3 separate regions of the Homo sapiens genome follow, and regions 2 and 3 are each linked to region 1. Evidence: fine-mapped expression QTL. A gene starts in region 1. Each other region holds a variant in brackets. All regions are shown on one strand. Distances are between the middles of the regions.

Region 1 (4,106 bases):
TTGAGACCAGCCTGGGCAACACAGTGAGACCCCCATCTCTACCAAAAAAAACCTTAAAAGTTAGCTAGGTGTGGCGCACGTCTGTGGTTCCAGCTACTCAGGAGGCTGAGGCAGGAAGATCGCTTGAGCAAAGGATTTCGAGGCTGCAGTGAGCTTGATCACACCACTGCACTCCAGCCTGGGCAACAGATCAAGACCTTGTCTCCTAAAAATAATCCAGGCTGGGCACGGTGGCTCACGCCTGTAATCCTAGCACTTTGGGAGGCAGAGGTGGGCGGATCACCTGAGGTCAGGAGTTCAAGACCAGCTCGGCCAACTTGGTGAAACCCCATCTCTATTAAAAATACAAAAATTAGCCGGGCATGGTGGCGGGTGTCTGTAGTCCCAGCTACTCGGGAGGCTGAGGCAGGAGAATTGCTTGAACCCAGGAAGCGGAGGTTGCAGCGAGTCGAGATCACACCACTGCACTCCAGCCTGGGTGACAGAGTGAGACTCCATTTCAAAAATAAATAAATAAATGATCCAGCCTGGTCAACATGGGGAAACTCCATCTTTAAAATAAAAAATAAAAAAACAATAATAATTAGCTGGGTGTGGTGTTGCACACCTATAGTCCCAGCTACTCTAGAGGCTGAGACAGGAGAATCGCTTGAACCCGGGAGGAGGAGGTTGCAGTGAGTCGAGATCACACCACTGCACTCCAGCCTGGGCGACACAGTGAGAGTCCATTTCAAAAATAAATAAATAAATAATCCAGCCTGGGCAACATGGGGAAACCCCATCTCTAAAAAAAAAAAAAAAAAAAAAATTAGCTGGGTGTGGCGCTGCACACCTATAGTCCCAGCTACTCTAGAGGATGAGACGGGAGACTCCCCTGAGTCCAGAAAGGAAGGAGGCCGAGGCTTCAGTGAGCTATGATTGCACCACTGCACTCCAGCCTAAGCAACAGAGTGAGACCGTGTCTCAAAACAAAAACAATCAAACCCAAACTTGTTTCCTTCATAAACATGCTGAAAACAACAATGGAAAAAACCCACAACGAGGTAAAGTCAGCCCAGTACGAGGTTAAGGTGCAATGTAGGTGATGGTCACAGGAGAGTTCAGGGTAAAAATTCTTTCATTTTTGCTATTTGAAAATGTCACAATAAAATGTTGGGAAAGAAACAGTAATTCACAGATCGTTTTTCTTTTCTTTTCTTTCTTTTTTTTTTTGAGACGTTGTCTCACTCTGTCGCCCAAGCTGCAGTGCAGTGGCCCGATCTCGGCTCACTGCAACCTCCGTCTCCCGGTTCAAGCGATTCTCCTGCCTCAGCCTCCCGAGTAGCTGGGACTACAGGCGAGCCACATCACACCCAACTAATTTTTGTATTTTTAGTAGAGACGGGGTTTCCCCATGTTGGGCAGGCTGGTCTCGAACTCCTGATCTTAAATGATCCGCCCACCTCGGCCTCCCAAAGGGCTGGGATCACAGGCATGAGCCACCGCGCCCGGCCCACAGATCCTTTTTCGAAGCCTTCATGTCCACGGAGGCAACCCCACCGGAATACGGCCAGAAGCACTGGGAGATCAGCAGCACTTTTGAGCTTTGCAGCAGACATCGCTAGGCACCGTCTAAGCCTCGGCTGCAGCTGCGGGCTTCGTGGCCGCCGAATGCCCCGCTCTGCAAACCCGGGGCACAGACAGCCCGCCGGGTGAGTCAGGGCGGAGCCGGAGACCCGGAAGCCTGACGCAAGGAGTCGGTGTCGCTGCCCTCGTCACGGGGGCCACGGTCCTGCCAGCTCCCACCTGCAGGGTCCATGCCGCAGCAGTGACCCAGGGCTGGGTGGGGCGGAGGGGCGGGCCGCCGTGCCTCAGTTTCCCCGCCTGCACCGCGCTAGATGCCGGCACCCCATAGGGCTCCGCGCTGGGCCGCGACCCAGACCCCCCATCGCAGACCCCTGCCCGCCGACCTTCCGCCGCTCACCTAAGTGATCCAGCGGGAAGCTGCCCTTGTCCGGGGGCCGCGGCTGGAAGCTCTTGGTCCCGAAATTCATGGCGGTCGACATGTTGGCGACTCCGGAGTCTGCGAGCGCCTTGCGAGCGTACGCAGGGCGGCCGGCGGAGCGCCGAGCAGGCACCCCGGGAGCGCCGAGCACGTCGAGCAGGCCCCGTCCCCGCCCCTTGCCCAGGCCCGGCCCCACCCCTTGCCCAGGCCCGGCCCCACCCCCTCGGAGTCAGCAAGCTCCTGAGCCCCGGTGGGCGCTGCCCGGGCTTTCCCGTCCCCTGGGACCCTCACAGCAGTCGGTAGCAGAATCAGCTTTTGGAATTGGTGAGAAACCGAGGCCCAGAAAGGTTCAGCGAATTGCCCGAGGACACATAGCGGTGCCGGCGTCTCTGCATCCCAGGTGTCTGCTGGGGCCTCGGTTTCCCCATCGCACAGAGACCTCATCACGGGGCCCATCCGGGGAGGAAGGCGGCACAGGAGGGACAGGAGAGCCTGTGGACTCGCTGCCTGCGGCTGCTGGAGCCAGGTGACACCACCGAGCAGCTTCAACAACAGGAATGTGCTCTCAGTCCTGGGGTCTGGAGTCCAAGCAGTGGGCAGAGTGGGGGCCCTGGGGACAGTCCCAGCCTCCCAGCTTCTGGGGGCCGCCAGCCTGTGAGGTTCCTTGGCTTGCAGAAGCACCACCTGGTCTCGGCCCCTACGTTCCCATGGTGTCCTGCGCATGTCCAAATTTACTATTTTTATTTATTTATTTGAGACAGGGTATTGCTCTGTTGCCCAGACTAGAGTGCAGTGGCATGATCACGACTCACTGCAGCCTCGACCTCCTGGGCTCAGCGATCCTCTCACCCCAGCCTCCTGAGTAGCTGCGACCACAGGCACACACCACCACACCAGGCTAATTTTTCTATTTTTCGTAGAGATGGAGTCTCCCTATGTTGCCCAGGCTGGTCCTTAACTCCTGGGCTCAGGCAATCCTCCTGCCTCAGCCTCCCTAAATGCCGGGATTATAGGCATGAGCCACCATGCCCAACCTAAATTTCCTCTTTTTATAAGGATAGCAGTCATGTTGGGTTAGGGGCCGTCCCAATAACTTCATCTTAACTAATTATATCAGCAGCAACCCTATTTCTTTGTTTTGTTTTTTAAAACGGAGTCTCTCTCTTGTTGCCCAGGCTGGAGTACAGTGGCTCGATCCTGGCTCATTGCAACCTCCACCTCCCAGGTTAAAGCAATTCTCCTGCCTCAGCCTCCCGAGTAGCTGGGATTACAGGCGCCACCAACACACCCAGCTAAGCTAATATATTTTTTTTCAACACAGAGTCTCACTTTGTAACCTAGACGGGCGTGCAGTGGTACGATCTCGGCTCACCGCAACCTCCACTTCCCGAGTTCAAGAGATTCTCCTGCCTCAGCCTCCAGAGTAGCTGGGATTACAGGCATGCGCCACCACACCCGGCTAATTTTTTGTACTTTTCGTAGAGACGGGGTTTCACCATGTTGCCCAGGCTGGTCTCGAACTCCTGACCTTAAGTGATCCGCCCACTTCAGCCTCCCAAAGGGCTGGGATGACAGGCGTGAGCCGCCGCACCTGGCACCTATTTCCAAAGCAAAGGTCACATCCTAAGGTCCTAGTGGCTTCACCATACGAATGGGGGTGGAGGGTAGTTACAGCTCAACCTAGGGCAGAATGAAAGTGTACTGTAAGCGGTAAGGCCCGGCCTTTGCGTGTCGATGTTGTCATGGCAACAGCAGTCGTGGGAAAGGGCTCAGTGAAGACCCCAGCGTCCACCCGCGGAGTCTCTCCCAGCCCTGAACCTGTACCCACATGCCCTGGCCATGAGGAAGTCGAACACTGGCCCGTTTAGAGCACCATGGGCGGCCCAAGCTCCAGCCTCCACTCACTCATCCATCCCACCCATTTCACAATCACTGGCCAGGCCTTCGTGGTAAGCACAGTGGGTCCCCAGCAACACCGAGTTCGCTGCCTGGCCCCCCGCTCTGGACCCTGGTGACACCTGAACCCACTGTTGCTTAGGAGCCAGTTCCTGCAACTTCCCAGGGGTTGTTTGCAGACAAGGGCTTGGTCAAGGCGGCCCAACAGCCCCCACCCCGGGGCCTG
Region 2 (4,128 bases), 31 kb before region 1:
AAGAAAACAGGAGAAAAGTCTCCGTAACTTTGGGTTAGGCAAAGATTTTTTTCAGATACAACACCAAAGGCAGAATCCACTGAGAGAGAGAGGAGGAGGAAGAGAGAGGAGGAGGAGGAAGAGAGGAGGAGGAAGGGAGAGAGGAGGAGGAAGGGAGAGAGGAAGAGGAAGAGAGAGGAGGAGGAGGAAGGGAGAGAGGAGGAGGAAGGGAGAGAGGAGGAGGAAGGGAGAGAGGAGGAGGAAGGGAGAGAGGAGGAGGAAGGGAGAGAGGAGGAGGAAGGGAGGAGGAGGAAGAGGAGGAAGGGAGAGAGGATGAGGAAGGGAGAGAGGAGGAGGAAGGGAGTGAGGAGGAGGAAGAGAGAGTAGGAGGAAGAGAGGAGGAGGAAGGGAGAGAGGAGGAGGAAGGGAGAGAGGAGGAGGAAGGGAGAGAGGAGGAGGAAGGGAGGAGGAGGAAGAGGAGGAAGGGAGAGAGGATGAGGAAGGGAGAGAGGAGGAGGAAGGGAGGAGGAGGAAGGGAGAGAGGAGGACGAAGGGAGAGAGGAGGAGGAAGGGAGAGAGGAGGAGGAAGGGAGGAGGAGGAAGAGGAGGAAGGGAGAGAGGATGAGGAAGGGAGAGAGGAGGAGGAAGGGAGGAGGAGGAAGGGAGAGAGGAGGACGAAGGGAGAGAGGAGGAGGAAGGGAGGAGGAGGAAGAGGAGGAAGGGAGAGAGGATGAGGAAGGGAGAGAGGAGGAGGAAGGGAGTGAGGAGGAGGAAGAGAGAGGAGGAGGAAGGGAGTGAGGAGGAGGAAGAGAGAGTAGGAGGAAGAGAGGAGGAGGAAGGGAGAGAGGAGGAGGAAGGGAGGAGGAGGAAGGGAGAGACGAGGAGGAAGGGAGGAGGAGGAAGAGGAGGAAGGGAGAGAGGATGAGGAAGGGAGAGAGGAGGAGGAAGGGAGTGAGGAGGAGGAAGAGAGAGTAGGAGGAAGAGAGGAGGAGGAAGGGAGAGAGGATGAGGAAGGGAGAGAGGAGGAGGAAGGGAGTGAGGAGGAGGAAGAGAGAGGAGGAGGAAGGGAGAGAGGAGGAGGAAGGGAGAGGAGGAGGAAGGGAGAGAGGAGGAGGAAGGGAGAGAGGAGGACGAAGGGAGAGAGGAGGAGGAAGGGAGAGAGGAGGAGGAAGGGAGGAGGAGGAAGAGGAGGAAGGGAGAGAGGATGAGGAAGGGAGAGAGGAGGAGGAAGGGAGTGAGGAGGAAGGGAATGAGGAGGAGGAAGAGAGGAGGAGGAAGGGAGCGAGGAGGAAGGGAGAGAGGAGGAAGGGAGAGAGGAGGAAGGGAGAGAGGAGGAAGGGAGAGAGGAGGACGAAGGGAGAGAGGAGGAGGAAGGGAGGAGGAGGAAGGGAGAGAGGAGGAAGGGAGAGAGGATGAGGAAGGGAGAGAGGAGGAGGAAGGGAGAGAGGAGGAGGAAGGGAGAGAGGAGGAGGAAGGGAGTGAGGAGGAAGGGAATGAGGAGGAGGAAGAGAGGAGGAGGAAGGGAGCGAGGAGGAAGGGAGAGAGGAGGAAGGGAGAGAGGAGGAAGGGAGAGAGGAGGAAGGGAGAGAGGAGGACGAAGGGAGAGAGGAGGAGGAAGGGAGGAGGAGGAAGGGAGAGAGGAGGACGAAGGGAGAGAGGAGGAGGAAGGGAGGAGGAGGAAGGGAGAGAGGAGGAGGAAGAGAGAGAAGAGGAGAAAGAGAGAAATTGACCTCATCAGAATTATTACTATTATTATTATTATTGAGACAGGGTCTTGCTCTGTTGCCCAGGCTTGAGTGCAGTGAGGCAATCATGGCTCACTGCAGCCTCGACCTCCTGGATTCAAGTGATCCTCCCGCCTCAGCCTCCTGAGTAGCTGGGACTACAGGTGCGCACCACCATACCCAGCTACTTTAAAAAACTTTTTGTAGAAACAAGGTATTGCTATATTGCCCAGGCTGGTCTCTAACT[T/C]CTGGGCTCAAGCAGTCCTTCCACCTCAGCCTCCCAAAGTGCTGGGATTACAGGCATGAGCCACTTCGCCTAACCAAGTCCCTGTTTTATTTATTTTTCTTTATATTTTTAACCTTTTTTTTTTTTTTTTTGAGACAGAGTCTCACTCTATCACCCAGGCTGGAGTGCAGTGGTGCAATCTTGGCTCACTGCAACCTTTGCCTCTCGGGTTCAAGCAATTCTCCTGTCTCAGCCTCCCAAGTAGCTGGGATTACAGGCGCCCGCCACCATGCCTGGCTAATTTTTGTATTTTTAATAGAGACGGGGTTCACCATGTTGGCCAGGCTGGTCTCAAACTCCTGACCTCAGGTGATCCGCCCACCTCGGCCTCCCAGAGTTCTGGGATTATAGGCCTGAGCCACCGAGCCCGGCCTATTTTTAACAATTTTTAATCTTTAATTTTTGTGGGTACATAAGAGGTGTATATATTTATGGGGTCCACAAGACATTTTGCTACAGGCATGCAATGTGAAATAATCACATCACGGCAAACACGGCACCCATCACCTCAAGCGTGTATCATTTCTTTGTGTTACAAACAATCCAATTACACTCTTTTAGTCATTTTTAAAAGTACAATAAATTATTGTTGACAATCGTCACCCTGTTGTGATATCAAATACTAGATCTTATTCTATTCTTTGTACCCATTAACCATCCCCACTCTACCCACCCTGAGACTCTGTTTTAAAGAAAGATTCAGACCCTGGGAGGGAAGAGCCCGGGGGGGTGACTCTGGGTGACTCTGGGCGATGTCTTAAGGCCTCTGGTCTCTGGGAGAGTGACCTCGGAAGCCCTTGAAGGCACTGAAATAGAAGGTGGCCTTCTGATTTGAGTATGCTGAAGCTCTGCAGGGTGGGCTCACGTGTGTGTGTGCAGGTGTGTGTGTGTGCAAGGAGATGGGGAGCTAGAGTCCCCCAGCTTCCAGTAAGGAAAAAGCCTGGCTGGTCCCCAAGGCAGAAGGGACGGGCTGACCCTTCTGTTTTCCAAGTGACTGAGGCTGGGCTGGGCAGGCCTCCTTCTCAGGCTGCTGGGCATGGCCAGGCCTGCCTGCATCCGCAAATGCCCGCAGCCCATCGGAGCGAAAAGGGGCGGGGCACGCACTCTCAGAGACCCTCCAGGGTGGAAGGGGAGCTGGTCTGACGCCCCAGCAGCAGGGCCCCCACAGGCCCACGCAGGAGAGCCTCTCCCTAAGCCTGGGCTGCACTCCAGCTGCCCCCTCCACTCGGGGCACTGAACCGTGGGGCCGGCCCTGCTTCTGCCCAGGACCACTTCTGGGTTCCCAGGACTGTGGAATTTTGTTCCAAAATGCCTGGAGTCAGCACCCACGGCCTGTGGTGCCCCCAGAACAGGCCACAAGGCCAGCAGGTACACACTGGGCCCAAGGGTGGCTGCGGCATGGCTGATGTGGTGGTGGAGATGGAGGCCCTGAGTGCCAGGTAGGGAGGGGCAGGCCCAAGACTCCAGCCCCCACAAACATCCAGGCTGCCAGCACCGTCTCCAGGAGCTGCCTCCTCCTCGGAGACTGCCCACAGCCGCCAGCCTCTTTCCCTCCCTCCTCCCAGCCCCGCTCTGCCCTACCTGCTCCCAGGACGCCCGAGGTGACTCAGCCGCTCACCATTTCCGGAGCTGGTCTGGGGCACCTGGGCAGGTGAGCCACATTCTTGGGCGGAGCCAGGTGGGGCAGGCGTGTCCCCCAAGCCAAGGCCCAGGCTGGGGCACGGGCAGGGGGAAGGGCAGTAGCCAAGCCTGTCCATGGGGCCCTGGTTCCAGAGACCTTTGCCCTCCCAAGGCTGACGCACAGCAGAGATCCCGGTGCAATCGAGGCCGGGTCGGACGCTGGCTCTGGCCAGGCACGCAAGGGGCAGCCGAGGTGGGAGGGTGCCCTTGTGGGAGGGGCTCCGGTGCCCACCACCCTTCACAGCTACGTGAGGCGGGGCATGCATGGCTGTCCCCCAGGCACACAGCGCCCCACTCCACGCCGGGACCCAGGCCCCTCTCCAACTCCACCTCCGTGTTTTCCGCATATTGTCTCCCAGTTACCCGTGGCCCCTGCAGGGATCCAGGCTCCCGCCGGCCGGTGGATCCCCGCCAGCGAGGCAGTGACCTCTGGAGCTCCTGGGTGGGCTGGCAGCCCAC
Region 3 (4,128 bases), 70 kb after region 1:
TACGCCCTCAGGTATCGGTGTTGGCTGCTTGTGACTGACTTTGGCAAGTAAGATCAGTACCCGGCACCTCTGGGCACACAGGGCCCGGGCTGCATCCACTGTGCCAGGGACCTGGTGCCGGGCTGGGCAGCAAGTCAGTATCACATCAGCAGGCGTGGGCCGTGGTGAGCCTCTCCCTGCCCTCCCGCTGGAATAGAAAGCTGATCCCGACGTCCCACTCCGACCCACGGTCAGGAAGCCGTCCTGTCCAGGAAGGTGGCTGAGGTACATCCCTGAACACAGTAGGCCACAGCATCATGCAGCGGAGGGCCAGTGGCCGCTATTCTTCCTGCTGGTGTTCCACTCGGCCCGCAGCTCACAGCAAGTCTATGCGGAACTGTGCAACCCACATGCTTTGATTTTCAGAAATGTTCTTAGATCCTGAACCAGAATGTGCTGCAGGGGGGACTGTTTCACCTCAAAAATTACAGCAAAGTAAATGTCCTTGTTTCAACTTTTCCAATGTTTAACTTGTAACAATAGCTACAAAAGTAATCAGGCAGCAATGTGTTTCTTTAAACGGCTTTCCTGTGAGTGTTCCGTTTACAAAGAAAATCCTAAAACCAGGAAGTAATTGGTGACTTTGGAAACAGCAAGCAAACTTCGGTGAAGAAAGAGGGGCAGGTGTACCTGGAAGGACTAACTTGCAGCCACTCATTTCCTTTGGAGGGCGGTGGGGCCTGCACCCTGCAGATTAGGGTATATTCTGACTCAGCAAAATAGGCACCAGCGCCTGTAAAAAGAAACCGCGCTGGGCACTAAGAGAATTCTCAAAAACTCCCAGAGCCCTGGGTGTGTGTCCTCCCACAGGGAATCTCGCACGAGTTCGTCAAATGGCTGGTCTCAGGTTACACAACCAGCACTGCCTCCACCGCCACCGCCCCCCAACCTCACTGGTCCGAGCGGTTCCCCGCGGTCTAGCCGCGAGGGCGGGGCCGGGGGGCGGAGGCCAGGGCGGGACCAAGGCTGGGGGCGGGGCCAGGCATGGCTGCCGCTCGCCGGCCGGGGGCGGGGCCGACGGTCACGTGTGTACACAGGGCCCGGGCGGCGTGCGCGCCGTGAGCCCCGCCGCCTCCGCCAGCCCGAGCTGCCCGCCCGGCGGCGACTGCGCCGGCCGCCGCCCAGCAAGCCGGTGAGTGGGGCCCGGGAGCCTGGGTCGGGTCGGTGGGGCACACCCCAGTCTCCGCCTGGGGAGGGAGCCAGCCCCAAGCTGCTGTGGCTCCCACGGCGGGCGCTGCGCTTACTGGGACCCGGGTCCTCTGGCCGCTGCCCACTGCGGGGCTCCGTGCCCTTGCCAGGAGGGGACCGCTGTCCTCCGGCCGCGCTCCGAGCTGAGCCCCGGGGGCGGGCTTTCGGTCATTAACCTGGTGATGGCAGCTGAATCTGCTGCTGGCGTAGGCGGCACAGCGCCGCCACCGGCTCTCCCATGTCCGACAGGGCACCACTGATCCTGCTCTCCTGGGCCACTATGGTGACTGCTTTCGGCCCCTTCTGTGATTAGTATTTTAAAGTGAGTTTTGGATCTGTGTCTACATGGAGGTGTCGGATCTGCTGTCAGTTGTCTTGGACAGTTGGCAGGGCATGGGACGGCTCTTTCAAAGCTTCACTGGAAGGCAGTGCTCTCCAGCCGCCAAACCACCACTACCAGCAGCAGAAAACCCACTATTAAGTTAGTATTACAAACCTGGCAAGTCAGTTCTCTAAATTAGGCATAAGTCTATGAATCTTGATGTGACTGGTCACAGTGGCTTATCTCTGCATGCATGCTACGTGGTGGACCAGAGGATAATTCTGTATTCGTCGTCCACAGCCTTTGATCTCTTCCCTGCCCATGAAGATGTACTTGAGTCCTCCATTCCACTTTAAATAGCCAGCTCCTGTCCACACGGAACAGCACGACATCTTTTATCTTTTGCTACCTGCAGCACCTAGCAGAGGCCAGCATTCAATAACAGAGGGCCAAGAGGCTTGCTTTAAAGGCCTCTGCAAACTTGTATGAGTAAAATGGTTCTGACCATGTTCCCAGGCTCCTCACGCATAGTGGTGATGAGATAGTCTACCGTCCTAACTGGGGCACCGTTGAGAGTGAACGGAGGCACTGTTAATAATTAGACGAAGTGCACACTCACAGTACCCATGACCTGCTGTGCAGCTCCTTCAAGAACTACTGTAAGGCCTGGCTCCCCAACCAGAACCCCTGTTGTCTTCCTCAATGAAGAAGGCCTCTGAAGACAAGTGACTTAAGAACATAGTTTATATGTATTGAATACTGTTGTGCCTTTTCACAGAGAAGAGGTCGGGGCCAGAGCAGCTCACTGCCCGACGCCACACACATCCGTGCTGGCGTCCACGTGTCATCCTGCCTCTCTAGCCAGCATGGACATATCCTGAGGATGGAGGACAGAGGAACACAGATTTAGGGCAGAATGTAAATGTGAAAGTTGACTTGGAGTCCCTGCAACTCATAAGCCCCAGTAGGCTGATGAAGAGAGAAGGGCAAAGGGCGCGCACCTCATGTGGGTCTTAGGTTAGGATGTAAAGGCTGATTATGTCTATC[A/AT]TACAATGAATCAATGGCATACTGCACAGATCGCTGCATGGGGAAATATGCTCGTGTAATTTACAGTCGGAAGAGGGACATGCTGCTCACTGGGGCAGGGAGAAGAAGGGGCTCCTCAGGGAGCTGCAGCTCTCACAGCCCCTAGGATGTCACCTGGAATCCTGAAAAAATAACTGCCGCCTGGCCTTTAATGACCCAACCACAGCGAGGTCTTGCCTTTGCAGAAGGAAATTATCACCCAGAGAACCCGGCCGACCGTGTCATGCACACGACGATCCCACGGTGCTGTTTTCTGTCAACAGTGTTTCCCAGCCATTCCCTCCTGCCTGCCAGCTCCTCTGCTCTCCAGGGCTTTCACTAACCCACCTGCCCAACTGACCAGCATTAGGCTGTCCAGTTAGCCCACATCTGTCCAGGGGTCTCAAAGGCTCAGGACCCCAAGACACCATCCAGGTAGCCAAGAGGACAGGGAACCCAGTCTGGAGAGTAGAATAACGTTTCGCTCCAATTTGAGATCCCAAAATGAGATGCTGCCCGGGACCAGAAGTCAGTTTCTTAGGAGCGTGCTGTCTACCCAGGAGCCTCCGTGTGCAAACAAAATACCCCCTTGAGCAGCAGAGGGACAAGGTGGAGGTGGGGCAGGTGTCTGTTCATCCCCACAGAGCCACACCCAGGTCCCTTCCTGCAAAGGCCAAGGACTTTCCCCATTTTAATTGGAACCAAAGCAAGCCTTGCAGACCACTGTCGCTACCACAGCTAGTGTGATGAGGAGAAATAACCTGCTGGCTCCTCCCTGGGAAACAACCAAGGTGGTGATAAGATCTGCGGCTCAGAGCACTTCCCTGCAGGTTAAGGCCACGCCTAGTAAACCGGGGCTCGACTGAGGAGCCCCGGCAGGTGCCAAGCCTGCCCAGAGTCTGCAGTAGAGACTCTCTGTTCTTGGCCATGTCTTTGAATTTCTGAGGAAGTCTTTTTTGTTTGTTTTTGTTTTTCCCTGGTCTGATGTACCTGGAGAGGGAATTAGCCTCACACCCAGTTAGGGAACAAAAAGCCAAGTAAACAAAAGAATGCTGTTCCACCTTCCTCCAGGGAACTGGCGCCCATAGCTGCAGGCACAGGTGCCCAGCCCGCTCACTGGCCCAGCAAGGTGCTTGGTCTCAGGCCCCCAGAGCCCGTCCTGGAGCCGCAAACATGCTCGCTATTATCCATGGAAAAAGAGAGGCATTCTCTTTGTTTATAGTCTAAGCCAAGTCACCTGATTCACTCTCACTACTCTGCAGTTTGGAATTGTAAAAAGCAAAAGGCTACAAAAATCAAAACCATCCACCTATGTAATGAACCATTTCTTATCACAGCCCAGGAAGGCACAGATAGGAATCAGTGTGCGTAAGCTCTCCACGTGGAAACCCTGTGAAAACAGCAGCCTTTCCTAAGCATCTGGCTCCTAGGAGCTGGATGTTAATTGTTGCTAAAGCCTGGGTTCATTACTACAAAAGAAAATAAACATTCCAGAGTCATTTTGAAAGCATTTT

The links.
Region 2: its variant is fine-mapped to the expression of COX19 in whole blood (TOPMed, PIP above 0.99).
Region 3: its variant is fine-mapped to the expression of COX19 in whole blood (INTERVAL, PIP 0.99).

The regions. Positions count from the first base shown.
Region 1 is chr7:973,465-977,570 of GRCh38, forward strand. It overlaps COX19 (cytochrome c oxidase assembly factor COX19), which reads right to left and starts at 2,085. Exons shown (of 3, transcript NM_001031617.3): 1 at 1,964-2,085. The coding sequence starts at 2,045. RefSeq lists enhancers at 1,308-2,190, 1,490-1,559, 2,191-3,071 and silencers at 1,800-1,959, 1,980-2,259.
Region 2 is chr7:942,192-946,319 of GRCh38, forward strand. The region is part of intron 1 of ADAP1 (ArfGAP with dual PH domains 1); the gene reads right to left. Among named protein-coding and RNA genes, the nearest start is that of ADAP1, 10 kb to the right of the region's middle. RefSeq lists enhancers at 2,710-3,624, 3,034-4,128, 3,462-3,756. The variant T/C (reference allele first, on the strand shown) is at 1,951.
Region 3 is chr7:1,043,488-1,047,615 of GRCh38, forward strand. All of the region lies in intron 2 of CHLSN (cholesin), which reads right to left. GPR146 (G protein-coupled receptor 146) reads left to right here and starts at 1,059. Exons shown (of 2, transcript NM_001303473.2): 1 at 1,059-1,171. RefSeq lists an enhancer at 178-733 and silencers at 839-1,328, 1,509-1,558. The variant A/AT (reference allele first, on the strand shown) is at 2,597.